2 linked regions of the Homo sapiens genome follow. The protein of the gene in region 1 interacts with the protein of each later gene in a pairwise test. Each region holds a gene or a part of one and is shown in the gene's direction. Other genes may lie near its edges.

The links. Proteins that work in one complex are often made in the same cells at the same time.
Region 2: the proteins of FOXN1 (region 1) and SPATC1L interact in binary tests that used the Homo sapiens proteins (3 or more experiments, as listed by UniProt).

What each region holds. Positions count from the first base shown.
Region 1 is NC_000017.11:28,530,307-28,534,056, forward strand, and holds part of FOXN1 (forkhead box protein N1), read left to right. Parts: intron 1-442; coding exon 443-539; intron 540-3,750. UniProt on the Homo sapiens protein: Transcriptional regulator which regulates the development, differentiation, and function of thymic epithelial cells (TECs) both in the prenatal and postnatal thymus.
Region 2 is NC_000021.9:46,163,721-46,167,470, reverse strand, and holds part of SPATC1L (speriolin-like protein), read left to right. Parts: intron 1-3,750.

The sequences.
Region 1 (3,750 bases):
ATAGGCTCAAGAAACCTTAGTTCCCTCCCTACTCTCCAACATTCATGCAATTGGCTGAGGACTAACTAGTAATGACAGCTTCCGTTTAATGAGTGCCTTCTATGTGACAGGCACCATCCTTAATCCTCACAACTCTGAGGTAGCTATTACTTTCTTCACTTCAAAGTTGAGGAAACTGAGGTTCAGAGAGGGTAAGGCATTCACCCAAGGTCACACAGCCAGAGAGTAACTAGGCCAGGATGGCCACCCAGGTTTCTCAGATTCCACAAGACCCTCGCACGTCTGTAATTCCTGACTTCCGTGCTCACTTCAATGGACACCTTCTCATTCCCTTCTCTTTCACCTCCAATCCCATAGAGCCTCTCACCAGGGGTGGGGGGCTTGGGGTGGGCTCAGGACCCAGTCAGAGGTTCGGACTCTCAGGGGCTTTCTCTTTCTTCAGCATCCTCATCTTCATGGCCCTTAAGAACAGTAAAACTGGGAGCCTTCCCGTCAGCGAGATCTACAATTTTATGACGGAGCACTTTCCTTACTTCAAGGTGAGCCCAAGATTCCTCCCCATCCCATCACCCCCAAGTCCTGGACAGGCCAGGCCTCTCTGAGCAGAGGCTTCTGTCTGGAGGTGGGAGAAGAATTAGAACGAAAGCCAGGAGAGGGCTTACCCCCACCATGCTTTCCGTTGTCTCCACCTCAGAAGGACAGAGTTCCTACAAAAGGTGCTCCAAGTGGGGAACAGAGAGCCCAAGTGGCTCATCCAAGGTTGCACAGCAGACTGGAGTCAGACCTTCTGCTGGGGAAGGTGGGCAAGGTAGCACCGATGGGCCTCAGGGAGCATCCACCTACCCCAAGTGGGAAGAGAAAGTTGGAGAAGAAATAAGACACTATTGCTACCCCGACCGCTGGGATGCTGTGGGGCTGGAGAAGCTAGTCAGCCACGGTGACTGGGAGGTCGGGGCTGAAGAAGCCATTGCCTTCCAAGGTGAGATTAGGATCTATCTCTGTGGGTGGCAGGCTCAGCTGCAGTTCTGCCAGAAAGCGGGGTGTGGGCTTCCCAGTCTTTGAGTGTCCCAGGCTGGCTCACCTGACTCTCCCCCAACCCCTTGGGCAGAATCTCATTTCTATCATTCACAGAAGGCGCTTCTGGGAGCCTTACCCAGCTCCCTCTCTAGAGGCAGGACAGGGGCTCTTCTCCCAAGGTGGACAAACACATCAGACAGGGTGGTCCATTCCCCTAAGGTCGCACAGTAGATGGGATCAGTTACTGGATCAAGCTATTTGGCTTTGCACACCCCTCTCTGCGTGCCACCTAGACCCTCCAGCACAGACCCCCTTCTCCTGGGATGGGTATCAGGGAGACCAGAGATTGTGTGTGAGGAGTGCCTTCTCCAAGCCCTAGTAGACACAAATCTCATCTGTCACCCAGGCAGTGGGCAGTTGCTGAGACCCGGGTAATCCAGAACTCAGCTCCACCTGCCAGGGGGTGATTCCTGCCCCCACCATCTATGGTCCTGCCTGGGGATAATTTGACGCTTGATGTTCAAATAAGTTTATCCTGCTGGGCTGCCATCAGATGAGGAGTGGGCAAGTTGGCCGGAGTGGTCTGTCCAGGAGTGGAAAAGTGTGTTGATCCACCAGAGGTTCTGGAAGGGAAAGAGGGAGGGAGGTGAGTCGTCCCTGGAATTCAAGAAGCATCAAAGCCTGAATTCAGGGCTGCCCTCCATACCCCAGCAGGTCAGGGGCTGAACTCTCCCTAACCCCTAAAGCTTTTGGAGGGTCTTCTAGGGTTTCAAGGGGCCAGGGCAGAGAGAGGGAAAAGCCCAGTCCTCTCAGCCTTCCTTCCCCACCAGCTCCCGGCCTGGCCCCCACCCCTCCCCGCATCTCATCTTCCTGGCTTAATTATTTTTCCTGGGAGCCATGTAATCCCTGTTTTATGGGGCTGAGGAGTGAAGAGGTCTAACAGCTTTTTGTTCCCTTTGGTTCTAGTTGTTGCTTTTAGCCACTTGCATCACTCCCTCACTCCTGAGTTTACATTTGATCTCAGAGAGAAAGCATCTGTGAGGATGGGATGGGCCCCAGATTGTGAGGCAGGCCCTATGGGGTGACCTGGGCAGGGCCCTTAGCTGGGGGACAGAGTTGGAGGCTAAGCTCTGTCACTGCCTCCTTGTGTGATCCAGGGCTAGGCCCTTTCTTCTCTGAACCTCAGTTTCCCAGTCTGTAAAGTGGGTCAGATCCGTTGGCACATAGATTCCTTCTGACTCTGACAGTTCCCCTGTGACCCACCTAAGGAAATTCCTTAGTTCAAAGATCCCCCACCTCTTTCCATCTCTCACTTCCCTTTTGAAGATCATTTTTCTGGGCAAGGATAGACTGGACCCTGGAGTGGCCAGCACTCATGCCCAAGGCAGCTGCTGTGGGCATCCCATAGCCCCATGAGTCAGGGATGTGGGGCTGGGGAAGTGTCCAGCCACTGGACATAATTGTTAGTGCTGACCATCCCTCTTCCAAACAGGAAGTGGCTGGGGTGGGGGCTGCCCTGGCATCCCAAAGTCACAGATTCATGGGGCCATAAAAGGCCCCAGCGCCCATTAACTCCGCCCATGGGGCAACGTGGCCTTAACTCCTAGTGGAGACTGTGGTGGGAGTCGAAGGTGAATCCCTAGTTGGCTGGTCTGGTGGCTCAAGAATCCTCCCTGGTGACCCTGGGAGCCTTAGGGGTCATCTCAACCAGCAACCTGCCCCAGGCCAGCTGCCCCCAAGAAAGGCTGCACCAGGTCCTGCCAGCCACTTGGAGTGACGCTGGCATCAAGACCCAGTTCTGCTGGGCATGATTCAGCTTGGCTGCTCCCTGGGGCAAGTGAGCTGAGGAGGAAGGAGTGGCCGCCCCTCATTAAGCAGAAACTTTGGGCTGAAAGGGGGAGGGGCCAGGGAATGAGGGCGAAGGAGCCCCACCGGCCAGAGCGAGTGCCCTACCCACAGTCAGCCCCTGCTGAACTCAGGGCTGTCACAGAGCCTGGAACAGAGCTGGAGGTGGGCGGGCAGGGGGCCCACTGGCACTCCCGCCACCGCCTCTCACCCAACTGAGTCAGCCTAATGGTTTTTACAACCCTCCCTGGGCACAATTACCACACTGGTGGCATGACCAGGCCTCCTAATGGGTGTTTATTCTATTGGCACGAGCACCCCCCCCCACTGCCTGAGGGCTGGCCTCCCCACCAGGGCACGCCCCCTGGGCACACTCATGCAAACACTCACACCCACACATCATACGATCATGGCTACCCACAGTCACACCCAGAGAGACTTTCTCACACACAGCCATCCTCACAGTCGAGGAATTCATGGACCCATGAAGGAGTATCCAGGAGACGTTGCTTATGCCAGGATGACACACTTAGGGACGTATGCACATGCTCATACGCACTGTCCCTTCATATACCAAACCCACTTAGACACACAAACATATGTGCAATGCACACACCGCACACACCCAAACACTCACCAACCTCGCCCATCTTTCTTTTCTCCCAAGTTAGTCCCAGAGGGGATAAGGCAGACCCAGGAGAGGAGCATTCTTCCCCTAATTCCCCTGTCTAAAGCCAGCCACAAGACCTCAGAGTAATGAGTCCCCCTTCCACAGAGGGGTCCAAGCACAGGCATGGAGACCCAGTGGGGAGTGGCTCAGCTTCAGATGGGAGAGTGTTGTGGGTCAGAAGGCCTCTGTAGCGCCCACCAGCCCTGGCTTTCCGAATC
Region 2 (3,750 bases), on another chromosome or scaffold:
TTCTTCATTTAAATTTCATTTATTTCTTCTCTGATCTTAATTATTTTTCTTCTAATTTTGGATTTGGTTTGCTCTTGCATTTCTAGCTCTGTAAGATGAATCATTAGCTTATTTGAAGTTTTTCTACTTTTTTGATATAGGCACTCATAACTATAAACTCTTAGCACTTACAGCTATAGCTCTTAGTATGGCTTTTGCTGAATCTAGTACATAGTAGGTTTTGGTGTGTTGTGTTTCCATTATCATTTGTTTCAAGACATTTTTAAAATTTCCTTCTTAATTTCTTCACTGATGCACTGGCCATCCAGGAGCGTATTGTTTAATTTCTATGTGTTGGTATAATTTCCAAAATTCCTTTTGTTATTGATTTCATTTTATTCCATTATGGTCGGAGAAGATACTTGATATAATTTCAATTTTTTTGATTTTTAAAGACTTGTTTTGCAGCCTAGCATATGGTCTATCCTTGAGAATGATCCATGTGCTAATGAGAAGCAGGTGTATTCTGCACCTGTTGGATGAAATGTTCTGTAAATATCTATCATGTTCATTTGGTCTATAGTATAGATTAAGTCTGATATTTCTTTGATTTTCTGTCTTAAAGATCTGTCCAAGGGTGAAAATGCGTATTGAAGTCTCCAGTTACTATTGTACTGGGGTCTGTCTCTCGATTTAGCTCTAGTAATATTTGCTTTACATATCTGGGTGCTCCAGTGTTGGGTGCATATATATTTATAACTGTTATATCCTCTTGCTGAATTGACCCCTTTATCATTATATAATGACCTTCTTTGTCTCTTGTTATAGTTTTTGTCTTGAAATCCACTTTGATATAACTATGGCTGCTACTGCTCTTTTTTGGTTCTCATTTGCATGGAATATCCTTTTCTATCCCTTTATTTTCAGTCTGTGTGAGTCTTTATAGGCGACGTGTGTTTCTTGTAGGCAGCAGATGGTTGGGTCTTGTTTTTTTTTTATCCATTCAGCCACTCCGTCTTTTGATTGGAGAGTTTAGTCTATTTACATTCAAAGTTTCTTGGTTGTTTTTGACCAAACTCACATACTATCATTCATCGATTTGACTGTGCTGTAATTTTTTTTTTTGGAGACAGGGTCTCACTTTGATGCCCAGGCTGGAGTGCAGTGGTGCAATCTTGGCTCACTGCAACCTCCGCCTCCTGGGTTCAAGTGATTCTCATGCCTCAGCCACCCGAGTAGCTGGGATTATAGGTGCGTGCCACCACGCCCAGCTAATCTTTGTATTTTTAGTAGAGATGGGGTTTTGCCACATTGACCAGGCTGGTCTCAAACTCCTGACCTCAAGTGATCCGCCCACCTCAGCCTCCCAAAGTACTGGGATTACAGGCATGAGCTACTGCACCTGCCTATTTACATTCAAAGTTATTATTGATAAAGATTTACTCCTGCCATTTTGTTATTTGTTTTCTCATTGTTTTGTGGTCTTCCCTCCTCTTTATCTAGAAGAGTTTGTGTTGAATTGGTGTTATTTATTCCTTAAGTGGTAGAATTCACCGCTGAAACTACCCGAGCCTTGAATGGTCTCTGTGGGAACATTTTCCCCCTACAAATTCCATTTTATTGATAATGTCAACTGAAATTAAGGCTGTTGAGACAAATAATTCGATAAAGGTTTATTGGAAGCCAAATGTGAGGATCAACCCAGAGGAACACACCAACAAAGTTGAGAGTGTTCTGGAATCTAAGTCAGAAGGTTTCTATAGGAGAGGCTAGGAGGAGGGAAAGGACTCCTCATACTCATGTCTAAGTCAGAAGGCTTCTATAGGAGAGGCTAGGAGGAGGGAAAGGACTCCTCATACTCATGTTGTCCTTTTCTAGTCAGAAGGTTTCTATAGGAGAGGCTAAGAGGAGGGAAAGGACTCATACTCATATCTAAGTCAGAAGGCTTCTACAGGAGAGGCTAGGAGGAGAGAAAGGACTCCTCATACTCATGTTGTCCTTTTCTTTGGAGGGTACAACACAGAGGTTACAAGCATTGGCTACAGATGACAACATACAGGTCAACACATCTCTGTGCAAGACAGTCAGTAAACCTTTATGATTCAGGAATAAATCAGCATCTTTTCAGTCCATTAATCAGCACATCAGCAATCTGAGGAAATCATGATAAGATTCTTTACTCAGGGACCATTAATCATAAGACCTTCCCAAGCAGGCCAGTTTGGAAGTCTGTTTACTTTTAAACTGTCAAATGTGACCTGTAAGGTTATCAGATATAAGGCTATTCAGAGTATCTATTTCTTCTTGAGTGAACTTTGGTAGTTTGTGTCTTTTAAGGAATTGGTCAATTTCATCTAGGTTGTCAAATTTATTGGCATAAAGTCATTCCTAATACTTCCTTATTATCCTTTTTATGTCTGTAGAATCTGTGGTAGTGGCATCTCTAATTTCTGCTAGTGGTAATTTTTGTCTTCTTTCTTTTTTCCCCTAAGTCTGGCTAGAGGTTTATCAATGTATGGCCTTTTTCCTTTGAAGAACAGGTTTTTGGCTGGATCTTACAGAGCCCAGGTTGGACTAGAAATCATTTCTAGAACCTATACTAGAATCATTTCTCTTCTATAGGATGTTTCTTCTACCTCATTTTTGCCTTGGTGGGGGGATGGGAGAAAGAGCTTGATTCTTTTTTTTTTTTTTTTTCTTGAGATGGAGTCTCGCTCTGTCGCCCAGGCTGGAGTGCAGTGGTGCGATCTCGGCTCACTGCAACATCCACCTCCCGGGTTCAAGCCATTCTCCTGCCTCAGCCTCCTCAGTAGCTGGGATTACAGGCACCCGCCACCATGCCTGGCTAATTTTTGTATTTTTAGTAGAGATGGGGTTTCACCATGTTTGCCAAGCTGGTCTCGAACTCCTGACCTTGTGATCCACCCACCTCGGCTTCCCAAAGTGCTGGGATTACAGGCATGAGCCACCGCACCTGGCCAAGAGCTTGATTCTTGATGAGAGAAATACATTGATACAGAAGGAGGAGATTACACCTGCTCTTCCACACCCCTCATTGGCCCTAACACACTTCTGTGCAGTGTGTTGACATACCTCTTCTGCAGTCTTGAAAAGTGATTGGGAAAGAAATACACTGAAAACTACAAACATCACTGAAAGGAATGAAAGAAGACATAAATGACCAGGCACAGTGGCTCACACCTGTAATCCCAACATTTTGGAAGGCTGAGATGGGCAGATCTCTTGAGCCCAGGAGTTCAAGACCAGCCTCAGCAACAGGGCGAAACCCCATCTCTACCAACCCCCCACCACCCAAGTTAGCTGGTCGTGGTGGTGCATGCCTGTAGTTCCAGCTATTCAGGAGGCTGAGGTGGGAGGATCACTCAAGCCCAGAAGGTAGAGGTTGCAGTGAGCTGAGATCGTGCCACTGCACTCCAGCTTGGGTGACAGAGCGAGACCCTTTCTTCAAAAAAACAAACAAACAAACAATAAATAAATAAACAGAAAAACACCTTGTGTTCACAGATTAGAAGACTTTATATTGTTCAAAAATCAATAATTTTGATATGGATTACATTGGATCTGCAGATTCATGCAATCCCAATCAGAATCCTAGTGGCTTCTTTACAGAAATTGACAAGCAGAAACTGAAATTCATATAGAAGTGTAAGGAACCAGAATAAGTAAAACGATCTTGAAAAAGGAGAACATTGAGGGACTCATACTTCCCAGTTTCAAAATTGACTATAAAACTTACAGTTAACAAGACTG